3 linked regions of the Homo sapiens genome follow. The protein of the gene in region 1 purifies or fractionates together with the protein of each later gene. This does not show direct contact. Each region holds a gene or a part of one and is shown on either strand. Other genes may lie near its edges.

Region 1 (7,649 bases):
GTATGTAGTAATTTTTAAAAGTCACACAAGCAGAAAAACATAAACATAGATTTGATTTTAATGTTGTTTGAACATTGCCTTTTAGCATTTTTCTTTGAATTCTAAGCTCATAATTTTATCATAAAACTGTCTTTACAGCAGACAATGACTAATTAGTAATTCTATTAAATATTTGCCAAATGGAGGGTACCACTTCTAGTTTTGCCAGAGTGTCTTGCTGGTCAGAAGTGCTTTGCCTAATAAACTCAACATGCATGTTGATGCTAAGAGTCTAACTGAACACACAGGACAATCGCAAATCTGTGAATTATTAAGCCTCCTTTCACCTCAATTTCCTCCCTCATAGGATGGTCTTTGCTTATCTCAGTTTTGTGTGTATTCCTTTTGATTGCTTGTTAATGTCTCCTATTTATAGTGATATTATGTAACAGTATTATTTAATCTCCAAAATAGTATACAATTGTCAAGTACCATTGCTGTAATTATGGTGCAGATGTTGGAATATGCTTGGAATCACTAAAAGTGAATTTACCATAAGCTAAGGAAGCTTACTCTTCAGGGACTCTGACTTGCAAGAGCCTATTTAATTTCTTATTACCTAAATTTGTAAGTTTAATTTTGCAGTATTTTTCTTTTAAAAGATCCCCCAAATTTTATGAGCTTCATTTCCAGAAAACTCATCTGGCCTTGTTTTTCATATTGTATTGTCATATTTAATTTGTTTTTATGCCTTTCTCACAATATTTTAGGTTCATGAGATCAGAGACAGTATTTTATTTGTTTCTCTACTGCCTAGCTTATTATTTATTTATTTATTTATTTATTTATTTATTTATTTATTTATTGTTATGAGACAGGGTCTCACTGTCACCCAGGCTGGAGTGCAGTGGCACATTTATGGCTTACTGCAGCCTCAACCTCCCAGGGCTCAGGTGATCCTCCCACCTCAACCTCCCAGTAGCTGGGACTACAGGGGAGCACCACTACACCTGGCTAATTTTTGTATCTTTTTTTTTTTTTTTTTTTTTTTTGTAGAGACAGGATTTCCTCATGTTGCCCAGGCTGGTCTTGAACTCCTGGGCTCAAGCAATCCACTCATCTCAGCCTCTGAAAGTGTAAGAATTACAGGCATGAGCCACCATGCCCGGCCTGTCTATCACTTAGTTCAGTAAATGCTTGGTGAATGAATGAATCATATACATTTAGTGGTTGTTTTGAAGTTGACTCTGCTGAGTGAGATTTTCTTTGCATTCATGCATCTTCATTAATGTCAACTTTGTTGCAGTTTTTAAAAAAGTAATCTTTGTTTACATTATCTTAAGTTACTTGATTTAAAAAAGTTAAAAGTGACTATTTGCAGAATTCTAAAGTCCCATTACTGTCAACATGCATAATATTTTGCCAAAAATGCAATTTGTCTTGTTAGTCTTCTTTAATTTTTCCATGTTTTAAAACTTTTCTTGGAGTATTTCCCAAATGGGATTTACTGAGAGGATATATTCAGCCAGCTTTGTAGATTCTAAGAGTCCTTCTAAAAGTTAAGTCTAGCCAAGGAAAAATGTAGTGGCACACGATTGCGTTTCTCTTACGCTGTCATTTAATGTGAGATCTAAATTTTGCATTTCTTTAATGCCCAAGGTGTTTATTTTTTAAAATCTGTACTCTTTTTATCAGGAGTTATGTTGACAATTTACCTGGGAGCTGATATACCCTATATAATACATGATCTAAGACCTGAACAATACACAAATTAATAAAATTAAACCATTAAGATATGTCATCATTTCTAAATTATACAATTGGGTTTTTTTTTTAAAGCAAAAATATTCTTCCTCTTTTCTCCATCCCTTGTTCTGGTCAGTTCCAAGGTTTTTTACAAATGCAAAAGAAATTCATTTGCTACTCCTGACCACAGAGATGAATAATTTAAGGACAATATCAAATTCTTGATAAATCTCATAAATGTTTTAACTGTCCAAGAAATGGACATTTATTTGGTTAATCTTTTAGCTGGCCATAAATAATGTAATAAAACCCCTTAAAATTAACATTAAATAACATAAAGACCTAACGATTTTTAGAAAAAAACCTTTTTGGACTGAGCCTTGAATTTCCTGAGAATTCAGCTACAAGTGATAACTAAAATGTAACTCGAGAATCTGGATATGGTTCCAGAAAGGATTGTTGTCATGCAATTGCCATTTCATCATCTTTCCTTAAAGTCCCTTCAATATTTATCATTGCAATTTTTGTCCTGTCTTTTCCCCTCCATCACATCAAACCAAGGAAAAACAATTATTAAATGCTCATTTATACTCACCTCCCTCCCTTCATATTCATTCATTCCTCAGCCCTAAAATTCCTGTAGGAATCCTGCTTTTACGTTTTATCTTAAAGCCACCATAGTATCTGTAATCTCTTTTGTAGTCATGTATGCTTAATTTTGGAAGACTGTCAACTACCTCTTCAGGTTCATTCAAATGAAAATGTATCACAAAATCGTAGGCTCTTCCCCTATCTCACTGAAAAATTACTCTAAAAATGACCAGTAAGCTGTTTTGTTGAAGCAAAACATCCAGACCCTAAACAAAAGTAGCAGAATTACAACATTTCCATAGAAATGGATTTTGAGCTTCTTTTTTTTAATTGGGGAAAATCTTATTTTTTAAAAAAGAATCCCAGAATACATCTTTGCTTTCAGTCCTTCAATTCTAACATAATGCCATGTTAGAGAATATGTGGTAGTGTATACTAAGCCCTTATGCTGTCTCACATCCTTGGGACAAAATATCTGTTTTGAAAGGACTTCTCTGAATTTTGCTATTTCCTGCTTACTGAGCAGTGGCCCCCTCCTGGGAAAACAGAGTTATTTCAGCCAGTGTTCAGACTCCATCTTGCATACGTCTCTGTGGAATATTAATAGTGCTACTGAGATATATTCATCATCTTTTCTCTGCTTTTGCTGTCTTTATAGCCCAGTGAAATTTATATTTGGTGTTTGTAGGAAGGCTATCAGAAGCTACTTGGACATCAAACTTTTAAACTATAAATAATGATGGCAAGACTGCTAGGATATCTTTCCACAGTTAAACCCATTCAACAGAGTTTCGTTCTTATGACAGTGCAAATTAAACTAGAATAAAATTAGTGTGATTTTAGGACAGTTTTAAAGTGAACATATTTCCCTCCCTCCCTTCCCATCTACATATCAAGGAGACACTCCAGACTGCACTTTTATTTAAATTGCGGCCATCAGAAAATACCGTGAGAAGGTAGTGTGTAGGTAATGGTTCAGTTAGCATTGACCCCAGAAAATGGAAAACCAAGAGCAAGTCACTTTTAAAGTGAAGCAATAGATTTTGAATATGGATTGTTCCAACTCACCACTTCCCGACCACAACACAAGAGTATTTCACTGTAAATTAAGAGTCTAAGTTAACCACAGCTGTGGTATAACTCTGAGAATGTTTTCTCTACATGTAGACAATTCTGGATCCTTCCGTGGTGCCCGTTACCCTGGTCTTTAACTTTTGTCCTTTGCAGGGGAGGGGTCAATGCCTTCTTATTTCCTTGCTCTTTAGAATTCTCCACCAGAGGGAGGACAAGGGAAGGAGTAGGTTTCACGCGCAGTTCTGAGTAAAGTTTGAATCTGAGAAACCCCACATTCACGAATTAAGGATCTCCAGTTCTGTGTCTTTATTCTACCCCTCCCTGCCTGCTTTTCCACTCGGCAGAACTGAGTGACTTTCAGCGGCTGCAGTAATTTTAATTATTCTGAGTCGTGCTCCGAACTATGTTTTTTATCAGTTCCTCTGAAAATTAAGTTGTAGTAAGAGACGTAGTTTAAGGGCACCCCCTTAGAAGAGGCCAGGTTATTTTTTAAGGAAAAGCTGAAGATTTCTAACAGGCACTTACTAAACACACACACACACACACACACACACACACACACACGCACACGGCGCAGACCCAGCAGGAGAGCGCAACCTAGCATCTTTAAGGTTCGCTTAGCCCTTCCTGTGCACCTGGAAGGAAGCCTTATCTTAAACTCCCTTCCACCTAGAGTTTATTTTCGCCTGCGTGCGACAGGGCTTTTGTACTTAAGTGAGTTAAGGAATGAACCCCGAACTCTTCTGGGAAAGCCACCAACGTTCCCCCCGCACCCCTCCCAGGGTTCCTGACCACGGAGACTCTGCTTGGGGCACAGGTGTGGGAGTCGCAAACTTTTCTCTGCGCCGTCCTTTTCCGCGTGGAATGGGACGGAGCAGCCCTCCCAGGCGCTGCCTGGCTGCGGAGGGGAGCGGGCAGCGAGAGCCTCGGGTCTCCGCCTGGGTTCCCGGGTCTCCGGGGCGCTGGCCTCGGTCTCCGCGCAGCGTCCAGCGACCCCTGTCGGGGGTTCCCGGCAGCCGCGCCGCCACCCCCCGCCCGGCCAGCGCGGGAGGAAAAGGGGCTGCGCCCGGGAGCGCCGAGCCCAGGCTCCTCCCGGTGGCGTGTCCGCGCCTCGGGGTGGGGGTGTGGTGGGGAAGAGGGAGGGGGCGAGGCCAGGGGAGGGTGCGAAGGAGGCGCCTGCCTCCAACCTGCGGGCGGGAGGTGGGTGGCTGCGGGGCAATTGAAAAAGAGCCGGCGAGGAGTTCCCCGAAACTTGTTGGAACTCCGGGCTCGCGCGGAGGCCAGGAGCTGAGCGGCGGCGGCTGCCGGACGATGGGAGCGTGAGCAGGACGGTGATAACCTCTCCCCGATCGGGTTGCGAGGGCGCCGGGCAGAGGCCAGGACGCGAGCCGCCAGCGGTGGGACCCATCGACGACTTCCCGGGGCGACAGGAGCAGCCCCGAGAGCCAGGGCGAGCGCCCGTTCCAGGTGGCCGGACCGCCCGCCGCGTCCGCGCCGCGCTCCCTGCAGGCAACGGGAGACGCCCCCGCGCAGCGCGAGCGCCTCAGCGCGGCCGCTCGCTCTCCCCCTCGAGGGACAAACTTTTCCCAAACCCGATCCGAGCCCTTGGACCAAACTCGCCTGCGCCGAGAGCCGTCCGCGTAGAGCGCTCCGTCTCCGGCGAGATGTCCGAGCGCAAAGAAGGCAGAGGCAAAGGGAAGGGCAAGAAGAAGGAGCGAGGCTCCGGCAAGAAGCCGGAGTCCGCGGCGGGCAGCCAGAGCCCAGGTGGGTGCGCAGCGCGGCCCGGGCCCCACGATCCTCCTCCTGCTCCTCCTACTCCTCCTCCTCCTCGGATGCCGTGGCCTCTCCCTCCCCCTCTCCCTCGCCCGTCCTCTTCGCCCTGCGCTCTGAGCGCCCGTTGAGTCGCGCGGTGCTTCCCCTCCTGGGGGCCGCCGCTCACCTGGGCGCCGAGTCCTACCGGGCGCCTACGCCCAGAGCTCAGGGCAAGGGACAGCAGTCCCGGCCGCACCCTCCCAGAGTCCCGGGAGCGCTTCGCTCCCTGGCACGGCCCCTCCCCAGCGCCTTAGCGGCTGAGCCCAGCCCGGGAGTGGGACCTGGGCTATAGGAGTCGAGGCTGCGTGCGCGCGTGCCCCGCGCCATAAGCGCTTTGCACGGGGGCCGTGTGCCCTCTAGCGGGAAACGCTGGAATGGGCCGCCTGGAGGGAGAGCCGGTCCCCTCGGTGTGCCTGGCAGCGCAGAAGTGGGTGGTCGAGCAAGAGGCCGCGTGGGAAGTTAGCTTCGGCGTTTTGGGGCACAGGGCAAGCGATGTAGAGTGCGCGCCGGTTCATCTTGATTCAGTCCTGTGCTACGGAGACTCAAGAGCAGCGGCAGGGATTCCTAAAGGTCAGCGAAGCAGATGAAATCTAGTCCAGTGTCAGGAATCAGCTCTGCCCCAAACAAGTTCTACAAACTTTTGGCTTAACAGTTCTATTTTTCAAGACCTCTGTGATAAATATGGATAATTTACTTTCCCAAGAGATGTAAGAAAACAACCGTTTATCTGAATTTTTGAACCCAATTGTTTGCTGGTTATCTATATAATAAAATGGCAATTGAAGCTTTCTAGAAACAAATCTTGTATTTCATCATCAGAACACGAGCATGAACAAAAGCTTTACCTTAGATGTCCCTAGGAAGCGCTGATGCTTTGGACATTACCTTGGACAAAAGAGGCATGTCGAATAAATACTTGTTTATGAGTGATTGGTAGGTAGCTGATAAAAGAGGGGAGGAAGGAGATGGGGGAGAATTTATTTTTTGCCTCTGCAATTCCCAATTATTAATTGATCCAGATGCCTTAAGTCGCTTCGAGCGTACCCCCAACACACATTTCATGAAGCACTTCTGCAGAATTAATTCACTAGTACTTGATAATACTGTGGCTACAGTAATACTGTAGAAGTATTTGTCCCTTGCTGGAAGAAAACAAACCACATTTGCTTGGTCTTCTTACTGGTATCACTGATAGCATTTCAGAACCTGGGTTATTGGCAGAGACCTTCAGCAGAGTTTTGAGCAAAACAGAAATTGAACAGAGAGTAATTGTTTCACCACTGGCCATTCTTGTGCTTGCTTCTTTAATAAGATCCTGCTGATCATATTCACTTCAATTACTGATCATTGCCCCTCATGAGGGTGTATTGAATTTTCCCTTATTTTTACCCTATATTTTGGGGAGAGACCATAGCACTTTATTCAACAAGATAGGAAATTGGGGAGCTGGATTAGTTACCTCCCTGCGTGACTTTGTCTACTGTCCTTTCTAAGGTCATCATAGTACATTACGGAGATTTCAGACCTAGCTCAAATCGTTGTAAAGAGTTATTTTGGGGGCTCTTATCACTGTTTGTGGTTGTGTTCTCCTGTCTCCCTGCTCATTGGCTTCAGAAGAAGTTTCTGTGGTCCTCTGTAGATGGTCTAATGAATTAAGAAGGGGCCAGCGGTCTGAAGTAGCATCCTGTTCAGGTAATAGGTGTGCATTTTGTCAAGGGCTCCCAGCAGCAGTACCGTAACACAGCAACTTGACAAGTTCAGTGGGGGAGGGGCAGGCATTTCTGTGCCCTCCAGATCTCATCTACTAGGTAGGCAGCTGTCTTGTGATTAGCTACGCTCTCTTGACACAGAGCACCAGAGCTTCCTTGGTGGCTCTCATCTGCTTTCCAGTGGTACAGCAGTGATTCCCTGTAAACCAGCTAAGTCAGTATCTTTAAGTGACATTTGCTTAACTGTCTTCCCTGAAAAATTGGGGTGAATTTGGCTGTAGGTTAGTTTTTAGTATATTTGTCTCTGTTTTCCACCAGATTATAATCTTTTTTGGGGAGGGACTTTTTACCCCCTTCGAAGCATCTTGTGCTTTTTAAACCAGATAAGAATATGTATTCTTTATTTGATTCAGAAAGAATGGTCAACAACTTGAAACCAGCTTTATATAGAAGCACATGGCATTAAATACAATGCTTCAGAATCAGTGTTTCTTTCCTTCTTTGTCATTTTCCTTATAATGGTAAGTGCCAGTGTAGTTTTCCTTGTCTTAGGAGAATTCATACCTGATGACTATAATGGTTTGTGAGAAAAACCCACACTCTAGGTTTCAGGCATTCCCAAAGGAACGACCTATAGATGCCATAACTCTAGTATTCACACTTGCCGTGCCAGCCCAAATTAGGACTTAGGAGGACAAGTTTCTCTTGTATTGCTCCCATCTTAGTGCCTGTCAGTTC
Region 2 (7,448 bases), on another chromosome or scaffold:
CTGCAACAGAACTGAAGGGAGTGGAGGCGGAGAAGAGGGACTCGGAGGGTGGGGTGCTGTCACCTGCCCGGTAGCACAACCCACTTCCAGAGTGGGTGGCAGAGGGGGCCTCCTGACGGCCCTGGAAGCCCCTCCCAACCCTGGCGCATGCTGCTGAGCTAGCAATTTCCAGGCTGGCAGCCCACCTCCGCCAGAGGCATCTGCGTTTTCCATTCTTGCTCCACACATGCTCCCTGGGCAGGGGGAGCCGGGCCTTCCTGGTGTAGCACCTGGGGCCCCATCGGCCCCACCTGGTCCTCCCACTCTCATGGACAAACTCCAGAGAAAGGAGGCCAAGGCTCTTCACCCTGGGGACCCACAGGCGTGCGGGGCTGCAGGAAGAGCATCCTGGTTGCAATCTAGGGCTGAGGTGGCCTCTGCTGAGCAGGCTTGTTTCAAAAGCTCCGGCTTCTTGGCGGCCCGAAGCTTCCACGCAATCCTCTTAGGCTGCCGAGCTAAGTCCCTCTGGCAAAGGGGGTGACCCCCATCCTTGCACCCCCCACAGGTAGGGAGGCGTCTGTTGGTATTGGTCAGTGACCAACTCTGGGAGCCTACTGCTCTGACTGGTGGAAGGGTGGGTGGGGGCATGGCTGTGGTCCCAGGCACAGCTGAGCCTAGCACAGAGAAGCTGGACCAGGGTTAGGGGGGCCCTGCAGCAGGAACGTGCATCTGTGCAGAGCAGACTAAGTGCTGGGCCGGAAGCAATCCTTCAGGGGCCCTAGACAGGCAGCTCTGTGACCGCCAAGTGTAGAATGTGGCTGTAAGAGGCTCAGAACATCACCTCCCAGGCTGGGAGCTGCAGTGTGTGTGTGTGTGTGGGTGTGTGTGTGTACAGTTGGGGGAGGGGGGAGAAAGAAAAGTGGGAAGATGCCCCTCCAACTCTAGGACCCCAATTTCCTGACAGCCTGAGAAAGACCACAGAGCAAGGATTGAGGTCTGTGCAGGGGAGCAGTGTCTCGGACTCTGCTCAGCTCCAGGCTGGCTGGACCTTCCAGGCTCCCCAGGCACACCTGAGAGCCTACAGCCTCTGGACCCAAGAGTGCCAGCCAACACGCCTACAACCGCCCAGCCTCCTACCACCAGCCTGTCTGCAAATTCAGTCCTAAGGCAAATTTGGAAGAGAAACAAAAGGCAGACAAGAAGCCCTGCTCCTGGCCCTTCCCAGCCCAGACTTTGGGGAGAAAGGCCCCGCAGGGCATCCCTGCAGGACGAATGGGCACCAACAGGAACAGGAGGAAAATAACCCCAACTTTAACTGCTGGAAACCCAGCAGCACCCCAGGTTCCCCTACAAACGGCTTCCCAGAAGAGCTGCCCCGGCACCCCTCCCATGCTCTGTGTCCTCACGCAGCTCAGCTCTGACATGGGGCTGGGGGACCCCAGAGAAGGGGTGTGGCAGCACAGGTTCCCTGGACCAGCTCAACTACCCCCAACCTGGCTGGTAGCTTCCTGGGGAAGGTGGTCCCCCATCGGGTGGCTTTTGTTCCTCTCTCCAGGCAAGCCTGTGCCTGGAAGAATTCGGCTGGCAGGCCCCACTGGGAGGACAGGCGGTACTGCCTCCTCCCCGCCCCCAGCCCCAGGTCAACAGGGCCTTTGTTCTACCTGCACACACCGGCAGGCAGGCGGGCAGAGCCAGCCCCCTTCCCTGGCAGCTCCCCCACCCTCTGAAGGCAGGCACTCCAGGCACAGGGGCGGCACCTCACTACTCTCACTTCCACTTTTGGGACCACAGCACCGAAGCGGCACGGGGAAGCCAACACTCCAGGTAGGCCACGCACACACCCAGAAGCCCGCGTCCCCAAGTCCGGCGGGCCAGACCTCACGGCGCACAGCAGGTAAGGTGGCCCGAGGGCAGCGGGCGGGGACCCTGGAGAAAACCCGGGCGCTGCGCAGTCAAGCCGGCAGTAGGGCAGCACAAGGCAAGGAAGAGAGTGAGAGCGAGGTCAGAAAGCGCGGTGACAGCCGGCTCACCCAGAGGAGCTGGGAGCCTCGGGCGCTCGGCAGGTCGGGAGGGGTGCCGGCGAGTGGGGGCCCCCAAGAGGGCAGAAGGGGGTAGGGAAGGCAGGGCCGACCCAGTACAGCACGGCGGGCATACGGCCCGGCCTCGGGGGCGCAGCTGCGCGAGGATCCCGCCGCCCGGGCGCTCACCTGGGCGTGCGCAGCGCGGCGGAGTCGCGGCGGTCCAGCACGCCGGGCACGCAGTTGGTGAGCTCGGTCCAGTCGGCGTGCAGCCCGCAGCTCCAGCCGGTGGAGAAGCGGGAGAAGAGCCAAGTCTCGCGGCGGTTGGGCCGGTAGCAGGTGCACTTCTTCTGGCCGGGCCGGCAGTCGCACGGCACCTCGAGGCGTACGTTCTGCACGAGGTGGCGGCCGAAGGTGGTGCCGCCCGTCTTCTGGATGTGCAGGAAGACGATCACGTCGTCGCCCTTCATGTCGAAGCGCAGCGAGCGCTCCAGCTCGCGGACCGGGAAGTAGTACTTCTTCTCGTAGTGGGGGTCGGGTGTGGGGAACAGGTCCAGGTCGTCGGGCGGCGCGCGGCCGCCGGGCGCGCCCAGGCTCAGTCCTGGGCCCGCGTACTGGTACAAGATGAGCATGAAGCACACCGAGCCCGCCACCACCAGCACGAACTTGCTGGCGCGCTCAACCATGGTCCTGCCGCCGGCGCGCCGCCGCCGCATGTGTCACCATCGCCGGGGCCCGGGCGCGGGGCGCGGGGCCTGGGAGGGCAGGAGGCGCGGGCGCAGCTGCCTCCGCCGCCGCCCGCGCTCCGGCCCGGCCCGGCTACTCGGCGCCCAGGCCGCCCGCAGCGGCGCGGGCCCCGACCCTCCGCGGTGCCATGGCTGCTCCCCGCCCGGCCCCGGCTCCCCGGGCCCGACGCCCGACTCCGCTCCCGCTCGGCCCCGCTCCCGGCCCCGGCCAGCACAGCGCTCTCCGCGCCCCCAGCACCAGCCCGCTCCGCTCCACTCCGCGCCGAGAACGCTCTGCGCCGCCCCGCGCGCCGCCGCGTCTCCGCAGTCCGCCGCCGCCGCCCCGCCCCGGTCCGCCCCTGGCCCGCCCCCGTGGCGTCTCTTGCCGTCGCCGCCCGCGCCGATCCTCGGCCCCGCCTCCGGAGTGCCGGGGTTCGCCGCGGGTGCTGGGCGCGGGACCTGGGTCTGCTGCGGTGGCGAGGCCGCTAGCAGGCGGGCAGCCAGCGACTGGGAAGTGATTCCGCCCTCAGGGGAGTGGGGGACCAACCGGCAGTGCGGAGCCGAGGCGTGGGAGGCTCTCCTGGCGGGGGCCGCGGTGAGGGGGCGCGGCGGCTGGCGCTTCTGGAGCCTGGGTCCGTACCCCCTCCTCCCCAAGTCCCAGCCGCCCACGTCCCCGCAGCCCGCGCGGGAGGAAAGGCCTTGACCTTGCACGCTGGGGCGCTGAAGTTAGACGCTAGCCTACTGGGCTGCACTTCCAGGGACCAGGGCGGCGGGGGCCGCCCACCACCAGGACCGAGAGGGAAAGCGAGGCTTTCCTTTCCTGCTCGACCCCCTCACCCCTGCGGCTGGCTTTGGGACAGTGCCCCGCAGCCCCGCATTGAAGAGATGTTGGGCTGTCTGCAGAGGCCTGCGGAGCGGCTTTATGGCTTCCTCCTTGTTTGAAAAGAATATCAGACGAGGTGCATTTTCCCCCATCCATGTTTATTATACTCCAATGAAAGAGTTATAAAACATTGAGCCAATTCTTAAGAATCGTGAGTGCCCACCAAATATTCTGTCTTTCGTGGGTTGGTTGGAGAGTCCAGCGGCCCGGGCCCAACCTGGCTGCGGAGGGCTCGCTCCACGTTGGCTCGTGTGTGGGCCGGGTGGTGCGGGCTCCTCACTCGCCGCCGCCCAGCCTGGCAAGCACGCGCGGCATTCGTGGGGCGGGGGGTCCCGCCAGGTGCCCACTCACACTGCTTGGGCTCTGGCAGTACTCGGAGGCTGCAGCCCGTCGGAAGCGCAGGAGTGGGGCTGGGACCTGCCAGGATCTCACAGCTGCAGGGCCGGCCGCGGTGGGCCCTAGTGTGTTGGTTCAGGCCAGCGAGGGCTCTGGGAGCGAGTCTGGCTGCCAGGCGTGGGCTCCCAGTGTCCACGTCAAGCCCTGCCGGGGACGGGGTGGGGGGGGAGGCGGGGTGGTGCCCTGCCTTCCGTTCTGTTAGGGACCGGAAGCGATCATGGGGTGTCAATTATGCCTCAGTAAAGCTGTTAAACGTAGACAACATCACACCAGAAAGCCCTCCTGGAAGCAAACCCAGAGAGCTGGAAAAACCAACACCCCAAACCCAGCTGAGCGGGCGGCATGCATTTTCCAAAGGGACCGCAAGAATATCCGCTGTGGACAGGCGGGTGCAGAACCCTCAACACAGCCCAGCGCACCCTGGAGTCCATGGTGTGGGGTCCTCAGTGGGACCTAGGGCCCCAAAGCCCCTGCTCATCTTGTAGGCTGCTTTAAAACTGTCCCTGGCCCGAGGGTCCTGGGGGCAGCTTGGACAAGCTTCTCCAGAAGTGACTCATTCCTATAGGAGTGGGGGTGCAGTCCCCATGGGACACAGGTGGGGCCGCCCTGCAGTGTGCTTGGACCTGCCTGCAGCCCCTTGACGCAGTCTGTGCCTGAGCCCTGGGGAGCCTTCCTGTGTGGCCTAGGGGAGCACAGCTGCCCCGGGTCCACCCCCCAGATGTCCTTACCCAGATAAGGATCCTCGTGCTACATCATAATTAAGGCTGCTCTTTTGGAGACCTGCTGGGTGCCAGGCATTGTAGAGGTGTCATTTCCAATTCCATCAGCAAATCTGCGGGGGTAGGCTGTGATATCCATTTACAGAAGAGAAAACTGAGGTTCAAAGGGGTTAAGACCCTGGTTCCAAGGTCAACCACTCTCACCCCATGAGAGTCAGCAGAGCTGGGATCCTGATTCCTGCTGTGAGCCCCAGAACCCTCCCCTTCCCCACCTCTGCACTTGCCCCAGCTCCCTAGGCCAGGGATGAGAGCGTCTACAGGGGCCACTCCTGAGAGCCTGGTGACCGTCACTGCCACCAAGGGGGAACGTGGGCCCAGAGTGTTCAAGGGAAAGCTGGAGCAGCTCCGAAGGCCAACGAAGCCATCGGTACTTGGGCCATGGCTCCACCCTGTGATGATCTCACTGTCCCAAGGGGGAAACTGAGGCCCAGGCAGGGACGAAGTGCCTGTGATAAGGTCCCACCCTTGAATGGGAGCCAGAGCAGCCTGACCCATGGAGCAACATCTCCCAGAACAAGCTATTTAATCCAACTTCATACCTGCCACACTGGCTGATGGGAAGCACTCACATTAGCCAGGAAGCCCTTTCTTTCTAGAATTCTTTTAAGAGGAGGGAAATCTGCCTGGCTGGCTACAGGACTTTGCTCAGTCTTCCACTTTGATTGAAGCCCTGCACAGGCACCTGAGACCCTAAGGCTGTAGGTGAGTTTCTGGGCTCTGAAAGTCAAGTCAGATGAGCCACCCATCAATCAGTGGACACTTGAGCCGAGTGGAAGGCAGCTCGAGCCCTCGTTGGCGGGGCAGCTTGCATCACGCTACTCCCCACCACTTCCCGCTACTCCCCGCGATGAGTCCTCAGTGTCATGTCTTGGAAAATGGATAGAAACGCACAGTCTGGGGCTGGCGTGGGGTTCCAGGAGGTCAGCGGACACAGCCAGGGTCTCAGGAGGCGCGCTCTGCGCGCTGTTTCCTTTCTTCCCTGGGTGATCTCCTGCGTGGCCAAGGTTTGCCCCAGCCCCGAGAGTGCATATGAGCTAAGTGTTTGCTAGGGGCAGCTTCTGGCCCTGACTGCTTGTGGGGTCCAAGGAAAAGCACTGGCAGCTCTTCTGCTCAGTGGCTTTGTCCCCTGAAGATCCACTTCACCAATTCTTTAATGCGTGATCTCTGACTTAATGGCAAAGAAAAGTAAAAGAACACGGCTTAGTGGCAGGCTGTGATGATCCCAGAAGAGGCATTAACATTCGGCTTCAGGAATGAAGCCTCATTCCCGGCCCACCGTGCGGTCTCAGAGTCTGAGAACCACGAGATCAACAGCGGCGCCCCCTCCCGGCGCACAGTCCCGCGGACGGCCGCGCGGGGGCAGCACGCGGCCCGGCCCCCGAGCGCCCGCGGTTGACTTTGCAAAAAATTGGGGGATTTTCCACACTCGCTTCCCTCGTCGTTCGTCCGGCGGCCGCCCATTGTTGTTTGCCAAGGGGTGGAGGAGGGCAGTCGTGTCTGTCCTCAGAGCCTCCCGTGGGGCTGGCCCCGCTGCCCACGCGGGGCAGAGAGAGGGGTTTCGTTTGGGGACAAACTTTTAGAGGGGACTCCGGCTCGCGCGGACCCGCGGGGCCCGGCCCCGGCCCCGACCCCGACCCGGCGGCAGGCTTGGGGCGCCGGGCTGCGCGCCGTGGACGCCACCTTCTCCGAGGTCGCCAGGCCCCGTCCGCAGCCGCCTCCTCCAGGGAGCCCGCGGCCCCTTTGCCGCCCAGCGGCCCCGTGCCGGGCTCCTCCCCCAGCACCGCGGGGCGCCTGGGCTCCCAGGCAGCCCGCAGACGCGGCAGGTCTTCCCAGGACCCGAGGGACGCGCTCCGGCCGCTGCCCGGGGACAGCAGGGGTCCTGCGGTTCGGTTCGAGGACCGCGCTGGAAGAGGCCCGGGGCTTCGGAAGGGCCATTCCCCTCCCTCCACGCCCGCCCAGGGCCTCGCTGTTCTTTGTGCCCTTTCTCTAGGCCCTCCAGGCCCGCTTCAGTCCTTAGGGGAAGAGGGTAGGATAAACAGAAGAGGAGAACCTGAGCAATTCGTAGGGGCAGCGTGGTCCTGGGCTTCCCCGGCCCTTGCCCGCCCCCCCCGCCCTGCTGGCTCGGTGACCTCCCCCTGGCTGGCCCCCTGCCCTCGCGTGTGACGTGGGGTTGTTGGCAAGTGGGGGGCTTGGACTGCTGCCTGGCCGGGATTCGGAGTCTGTCCAGTGGAGCCCACCCTCCTCCCCGGGCAGCGGGACTGTGGGCAGGCCTGGCGGGTTCTGCCAGCTTGGGAGGCAGGACAGGGACCTGGTAACGTTGCCCCAAGGGCATCGTCCTGGTTCTTCTGCTTGAAACTTCCCAAGGGACATGTCTTTAGACGACTAGGGTGGAGGCGGGATCACAGCCTGGATGGGGTGGGGGGTGACTGCTCGCAGCTTCCGGTGGCCAGTGGGTCTCCTCCCAGATGGCTGTCATTCACTGCCCAGAGGGGTTCCGACTCGGCCGGGTCGGGGGAGCCACCAGAGAGGGCACTGAGCAGCTTGACAAGCTCCACTGTTGGGGATGTTCCCTGGGGGTGGGGTGGGGTGGATGGCGGCTCTTTTGAGGGTGAAATGTTCTAGTCCGAGAAAAGTCACTCAACCATGGGGTGCTTGCTGCTCCCACCCC
Region 3 (7,025 bases), on another chromosome or scaffold:
TAAACATACAAAAAACTAGCCAGGCGTGGTGGCGGGTGCCTGTAGTCCCAGCTACTCGGGAGGCTGAGGCTGGAGAATGGCGTGAACCCAGGAGGCAGAGCTTGCAGTGAGTTGAGATCGTGCCACTGCACTACAGCCTGGGCGACAGAGCGAGACTCCGTCTCAAAAAAAAACAAAAAACAAAAAACAAAAAAAGTTCCTGGCTGGGCTTGGTGGTTCATGCCTGTAATCCCAGCACTTTGGGAGGCCAAGATGAATGGATCACTTGAGGTTGGGAGTTCGAGACCAGCCTGGCAAACATGGCGAAACCCCATCTCTACTAAAAATACAAAAAATTAGCTGGGCGTGGTGGTGCACACCTGTAATCCCAGCTACTCGGGAGGTTGAGGCAGGAGAACTGCTTGAACCTGGGAGGCGGAGGTTGCAGTGAGCTGAGATTGTGACACTGCACTCCAGCCTGGGTGACAGAGAGAGACTCCATCTCAAAAAAAATAAAAATAAAAATAAATAAATAAAGAGGTCCAAGACTGTAACTCTGTAACTACAGAGAAGAAATGTCATGTATGCATACTACTGGGCCCTGGAGTGAATGATATTTTCATACACATAATTATATCAAAGCCACATACTGGTTTTTAATTTTCAGAATTAGGCTTAGACAAAGAATGGAAGGCTTAAATGTGGTTACATAGGAGAATGTGAATGTCAAGCTTGACGATATAAAAGTAAAAATACAGCTGCCAGGAAGTGAAAAGAGGAAGAGGGGAGGAAAAGTGGTTGGATAGGGTGCCTAATATTCTTGTCTTACATAAAAAGTATTCAAGATACTATTGTTGATGGAAAAAAAAAGTATAGGGATACTTATACTATTGATGAAAATAACCAACAGAAACTTAAAAATATTAAAAGCTATCAATTACTGGGAACAGTAAGGATGGGATCGTGAGCTAAATCATCTGTCATTGCAGGGAATCAATATACTTGCATATGTGTGTATGTGGTATGTTTGTATATGCGTAGAACATTTGTTTCCAGGATATACAAGAAACCAAAAACATTGATAATTACCTCTTGGAAAGGAAACTGGGTGGCTGGGAGGCAGCAGTCAAGGGGAGACTTTTTCATGGTATACTCTTTTAAACCTTCTGAATTTTAACTATGTAAACCTCTTATTCAATTCTAAAATAAATCAATAATTTTCTTTTTTTTGAGACAGAGTCTCACTCTATTGCCCAGGCTGGAGTGCAGTGGTGCAAACTCAGCTCGCTGCAACCTCCACCTCCCAGTTTCAAGCAATTCTCCTGCCTCAGCCTCCCAAGTAGCTGGGACTACAGGCGTGCACCACCACACCTGGCTAATTTTTGTATTTTTAGTAGAGAAAGGGTTTCACCATGATGGCCAGGCTGGTCTTGAACTCCTGACCTCAAGTGATCCATTCACCTTGGCCTTCCAAAGTGCTGGGATTACAAGCGTGAGCCACCACGCTTGGCCAATAAATAAATTTTTAAAAAGAATAAGCAGGCTAGGTACAGTGGCTGATGCCTGTAGTTCCAACTACTCAGAAGGCTGAAGTGGGAGGACGGCTTGAGCCTGGGAGGCAGAGGTTGCAGTGAGCCGAGATTGCACCACTGCACTCCAGCCTGGGCAACAGAGCCAGACCCTGACTCAGGGTCTTGTCACTCAGGCTGGAGTGCAGTGCCACTTTAGAACTGGATAATAGGTTTACAGACTCTGTCTGTAAACAAACAAACAAACAAACAAACAAATAAAAAAACCCAGAAAGTAAAAGAGACTGCTATTGAAGAGTGGGACTAAAAATCTGGAGGCGGGATTGGAGACTAATGTTTTTCTATGAAGAGTGGGACTAAAAATCTGGAGGCGGGATTGGAGACTAATGTTTTTCTATTTATTTATTTATTTATTTTTAGAGACAGGGTCTCACTCTGTTGTCCACGCTGAAGTGCACTGGTGTGATCATGGCTCACTTCGGCCTCAAATCCACCAGCTAAAGCAATCTTCTCACCTCAGCCTCCCAAGTCACTGAGATCACAGGCATGAGCTACCGTGCCCAGCAATGGTTTTCATTATAAGCTTTTCAGCACTATTGGATTTAATTTTTTACAATATGTTTATATTTGGTCAATAAACATTTTTAAATTAAATAATGAAAAATAAAGCATAATATGACATTGGGTGTTATCTGCATCCATGAAGAAAAGATTCACCAGGTAGTAACCATAAACTGTCAAATTAAGGCAACTCTTTTTTTTTTTTTTTTTTTTGAGACAGAGTCTCACTCTGTTGCCCAGGCTGGAGTGCAGTGGTGCAGTGGTGCGATCTTGGCTCACTGCAAGCTCCGCCTCCCAGGTTCACACCATTCTCCTGCCTCAGCCTCCCGAGTAGCTGGGACTGCAAGTGCCATCCACCATGCCCGGCTAGTTTTTTGTATTTTTTTAGTAGAGACGGGGTTTCACTGTGTTAGCCAGGATGGTCTCAATCTCCTGACCTCGTGATCCACCCGCCTCAGCCTCCCAAAGTGCTGGGATTACAGGCATGAGCCACCGCGTCCGACAGGCAACTCTTAAGTTCTAACCAGTGCAACCCTTTCGAAGGACAATTTGTTAATAACTATGAAAAATCTAAATGAATCCATCTTTTGGTGTAGTTAATTCTTCTGGGAATCTACTGTGCAGAGATACTGGACACATATGCAATTATTCATTGTTATGAATAAGGAAAAGCTAGAAACAACTTAAAAGTTTGCCAGTAGGCCAGGCACGGTGGCTCACGCCTGTAATCACAGCACTTTGGGAGACCAAGGTGGGCGGATCACGAGGTCAGGAGATCGAGACCATCCTGGCTAACACGGTGAAACCCCATCTCTACTAAGAATACAAAAAATTGCCGAGCATGGTGGCTCATGTCTGTAATCCCAGCACTTTGGGAGGCCAAGGCAGGCGGATCACCTGAGACCAGCCTGACCAACATGGAGAAACCCCATCTCTACTAGAAATACAAAATTAGCTGGGCTTGGTGGAGCATGCCTGTAGTCTCAGCTACTTGGGAGGCTGAGGCAGGAGAACTGCTTGAACCCGGGAGTTGGAGGCTGCAGTGAGCCAAGATTGCACCACTGCACTCCAGCCTGGGCAACAGAGCAAGACTCCATCTCAGAAAAAAAAAAAAATTGCCAATAGAAGACAAATAAATTGTGAAAATTCTATAACATAGAATACTGCGAGGCCATTAAAAAAATGAGGCAGCAGGTCATGATGGCGCATGCCCATAGTCCCAGCTACTCAGAAGGCTGAGGTGGGAGGATTGCTTGAGCCGAGGAATTCTATGCTATAATGTGCTATGCCGATGAGGTGCCTGCATAGAAGTTCAGCATCCATATGGTGAACTCCTGGGAGTGGGGGACCACATAATTGCCTAAGGAGGGGATGAACTGGTCCAGGTTAGAAATAGAACAGGTTGGCCAGGCGCGGTGGCTCATGCCTGTAATCCCAGCACTTTGGGAGGCCGAGGCGGGCAGATCATGAGGTCAGGAGATTGAGACCATCCTGGCTAACACGGTGAAACCCTGTCTCTACTAAAAATACAAAAAATTAGCTAGGTGTGGTGGCAGGCGCCTGTAGTCCCAGCTACTCAGGAGGCTGAGGCAGGAGAATGGTGTGAACCCGGGAGGTGGAGCTTGCAGTGAGCCAAGATTGTGCCACTGCACTCCAGCCTGGGCGACAGAGCGAGACTCCATCTCAAAAAAAAAAAAAAAAAGAAAGAAATAGAACAGGTTAAAACTCCTGTGTTGATCAGTAGTGGGAACAGACCTGTGAATAGCCACTGCACTCCAGCCTGGGCAATACAGCAAGACCCTCATCTCTAAAATAAAATAAAATAATGAGACAGACCCGTATGTATTGGCATAGAAAAATATCTGTTATATGATTAAGTGAAAAGTGTGGTAAATTGTACATCATGCATAGCATAATACCATTTTTCTTTTTTAAAAAACTGCATGTGGCCAGGCACAGTGGCTCACATCTGTAATCCCAGCACTTTGGGAGGACAAGGTGGGCAGATCACTTGAGGCCAGGAGTTCGAGACCAGCCTGGCCAACATGATGAAACCCCAACTCTACTAAAAATACAAAAAGTAGCCAGGCGTGGTGGTGGGCACCTGTAATCCCAGTTACTTGGGAGGCTGAGGCAGGAAAATTGCTTGAATCCAGGAGGCAGAGGTTGCAGTGAGCCGAGATCGTGCCACTGCACTCCAGCCCGGGTGACATCAGACTGTCTCAAGAACAAACAAACAAAAAAACTGCATGTGTGTGTACTTGCACAGAAAATATTTTGGGAAAATTGCTGCCAGTAATGGATTTCTGGGGGAATAAGACTATGTGGGACTTTCTTTTTCCATGTTAAAAGCTTCTGTAAAGTTTAATGTTTTTATAAGACATTATAATGTTTTTTTTTTTTAAAGACAGGACCTCACTCCAGTTGCTTAAGCTAGAGTACAGTGGCACAATTTCGGCTCACTGCAGCCTCGACCTCCTGAGCTCAGGTGATTCTCCCACCTCAGCTTCCTGAGTAGCTGGGACTATAGGCGTGCCTCACCACACCTGGCTAGTTTTTTATGTTTTTAGTAGACAGGATTTCGCCATGTTGCCTAGGCTGGTCTCAAACCCCTGGACTCAAGCAATCTGCCTGTCTTGGCCTCCAAAGTGCTGGGATTACAGGTTTGTGCTACTGTGCCTGGCCACATGTCACTCTTATAATTAAAAAGTAGATATAACTGAAGGAAGTGTGACAGGGCTCCCATGCCAGTGCCTTTTTGGACATGCAGGGTAGAAAGGGGGAGGTGCCAGCTCTGAAGCTTCCCAGAGACCAGGATTGACCCAGCTTGAGGAATTTTGTGAACCAGAAAACCTGGGGGTTGGGAAACGACTGTTAATGCTCAGGCAGCCAGCAGCCTGCCCCAGAAGCAGCCAGATCCAACACCTCACCAAAGTTCTCCCTGATGCAAGGCGAGAAATGGGCAGTCCTGGGCACATCCCCGAAACAGTCTCTCCATCCTCAACAATCTAGGGTCTGGTGAGACGGAGAAAGAGAGCAAAAACAGGCACAAAGGCATACACACATGCATATGCAGGCACACACACATGCTTCATGCATAGACACCCACACGCTTCATGCATAGACACCCACACAGAGACATGCAACCATGCAGCTGTTTGCTGGCACACAGACTCAGGGAGATACCAAGAGATTACACAAACACTGAGATACACAAAGAGAGACACAGAGAAAGGGAAAGAACCAGAGGGAGGGGAAAGGAAGAGCGAGGGAGACAAAGCCCATACATTCCCTCTTGGGAATGTTCCTTTGGGATATATATGCAGATCTGAGTCCCATTCTGACCTCCCCCATAGTGAGAGCTGGGTAAATTATGCCACCTCAGTTTCGTCTGCAAAAAAAGGCTAATTATCCTGACCTCAGTGAGTGAGTGTCATCTGACAATGTGAGAGGATGTTGCTGCCTGCCTCCGATCTTCCAGATATGGAGGCCTGGTGAGCCAGCTACGGTCAGGGCAGAGGTCAGGGGCCAGGTGCTGGGCAGTGAGGGGTGAAGTGAGGGGTACTCACGGATAGCAGAGGAACAGGAGGTTCAGGAAGGAGTAGGTCCTGAAGAGGTGGATGAGGGATCGGCACAGACTCCAGCCTGTTGCCGTGAGAACGGTGAAGCGAGTGAGGAACAGCAGGATGGAGCGAAAGAGGGAGACCTTCCCCCTCTGAGAGGCCTGGGTCGGGGCAAGATAGGACGGGATGGGGCCTTGGATGGAGGCCGAAGGGGCTGTGCCCAAATCCCACCCAGCATGACCTGTGATCCCACCCAGGGAGAGGTGGCACAGCAGGCTGGGCAGAACCTGGCAAGGTAAATCCTTCTCTTTGATGCCCAGTAAACTCCAAGATGGGATGTAACTAATGTTCTTCAACCAAGTCCAAAGGGAGCCCCAAGGAAATACCCTAAGGCTGAAGGGCTGGGCATGTTTCCTTGGCATCCCCAGGGGAAAAGGGGAATCCCAAAGTCCCTGGCCAGCCTCTAGGACCCAATCACCTCCTTCACGATGGACCCAATGAAGCGGCGGCCCAGAACGATGGTGGTCACCATCAGCAAGTTGAAGTCGATCAGATGGAAGTTCTGTCAGGGGGCAGAGGCCTGGGGGTCATGTGGGCCCCTTGCCCATATGCAGGCTTTTTTCATACCCACCTCCCGCTGCCCATTTCTTTCCACAGAGACTGTCCTCATTCTCTGACCTTCATCGGCCTCCAGCTGAGTCAGGCCAGGAAATTACCTACAGGAGTAGGACAGGACCCCGAGAAGGGAAGTGGGACAGTCCCTGGGGATAAGAGAGTGGTATGTGAGCCCTCTTGCTCTGCTCACACATGCCCCTGTCCCTATACTGTGTCTGCACTGAAGTCTTTCCTCCCCTTGAAGCACTCATGTATCCCTGTGGTTCATCTCCACTACTGGATTAAGACTCTCAGCTCCTGGCCGGGCGCGGTGGCTCACGCCTGTAATCCCAGCACTTTGGGAGGCTGAGGCGAGTGGATCATTTGAGGTCAGGAGTTCGAGACTAGCCTGACCAACATGGTGAAACCCTGTCTCCACTAAAAATACAAAATTAGCCGGACATGGCGGCACACACCTGTAATCCCAGCTACTCGGGAGACTGAGGCAGGAGAATCGCTTGAAACTGGAAGGCGGAGGTTGCAGTGAGCTAAGATTGCGCCATTCCACTCCAGCCTGGGCAACAACAGCGAAACTCCGTCTCAAAAAAAAAAAAAAAAAAAAAAAAAGAAGAAAAGAAAAGAAAAGGACTCTGAGCTCCTTTAGGCAAAATCTTTGTCAGATTCATCTCCCATACACTTACAGTGCCCAATGTGCTACTAAACACACTAGGAGTATTCAGTGAATCATCAGTTTCCTGTTCCTTCAGCACCTTCCATGTTCAGCATGGAGCCAAGTGCA

What was found.
Region 2: the proteins of NRG1 (region 1) and HS6ST1 purify together in Homo sapiens (affinity purification with mass spectrometry; 3 studies listed by BioGRID and IntAct, with this or other methods). This does not show direct contact.
Region 3: the proteins of NRG1 (region 1) and TMEM39B purify together in Homo sapiens (affinity purification with mass spectrometry; 3 studies listed by BioGRID and IntAct, with this or other methods). This does not show direct contact.

Annotation. Positions count from the first base shown.
Region 1 is NC_000008.11:32,543,673-32,551,321, forward strand, and holds the start of NRG1 (pro-neuregulin-1, membrane-bound isoform isoform HRG-alpha proprotein), read left to right. Parts: upstream 1-4,638; 5' UTR 4,639-5,054; coding exon 5,055-5,154; intron 5,155-7,649. UniProt on the Homo sapiens protein: Direct ligand for ERBB3 and ERBB4 tyrosine kinase receptors. Concomitantly recruits ERBB1 and ERBB2 coreceptors, resulting in ligand-stimulated tyrosine phosphorylation and activation of the ERBB receptors.
Region 2 is NC_000002.12:128,315,851-128,323,298, forward strand, and holds the start of HS6ST1 (heparan-sulfate 6-O-sulfotransferase 1), read right to left. Parts: upstream 3,019-7,448; 5' UTR 2,714-3,018; coding exon 2,187-2,713; intron 1-2,186. UniProt on the Homo sapiens protein: 6-O-sulfation enzyme which catalyzes the transfer of sulfate from 3'-phosphoadenosine 5'-phosphosulfate (PAPS) to position 6 of the N-sulfoglucosamine residue (GlcNS) of heparan sulfate.
Region 3 is NC_000001.11:32,075,932-32,082,956, reverse strand, and holds part of TMEM39B (transmembrane protein 39B), read right to left. Parts: intron 6,722-7,025; exon of another isoform or gene 6,703-6,721; intron 6,568-6,702; exon of another isoform or gene 6,317-6,567; coding exon of another isoform or gene 6,311-6,316; intron 6,195-6,310; coding exon 6,111-6,194; intron 5,794-6,110; coding exon 5,639-5,793; intron 1-5,638. UniProt on the Homo sapiens protein: May protect the cells against DNA damage caused by exposure to the cold-warming stress and facilitates tissue damage repair during the recovery phase.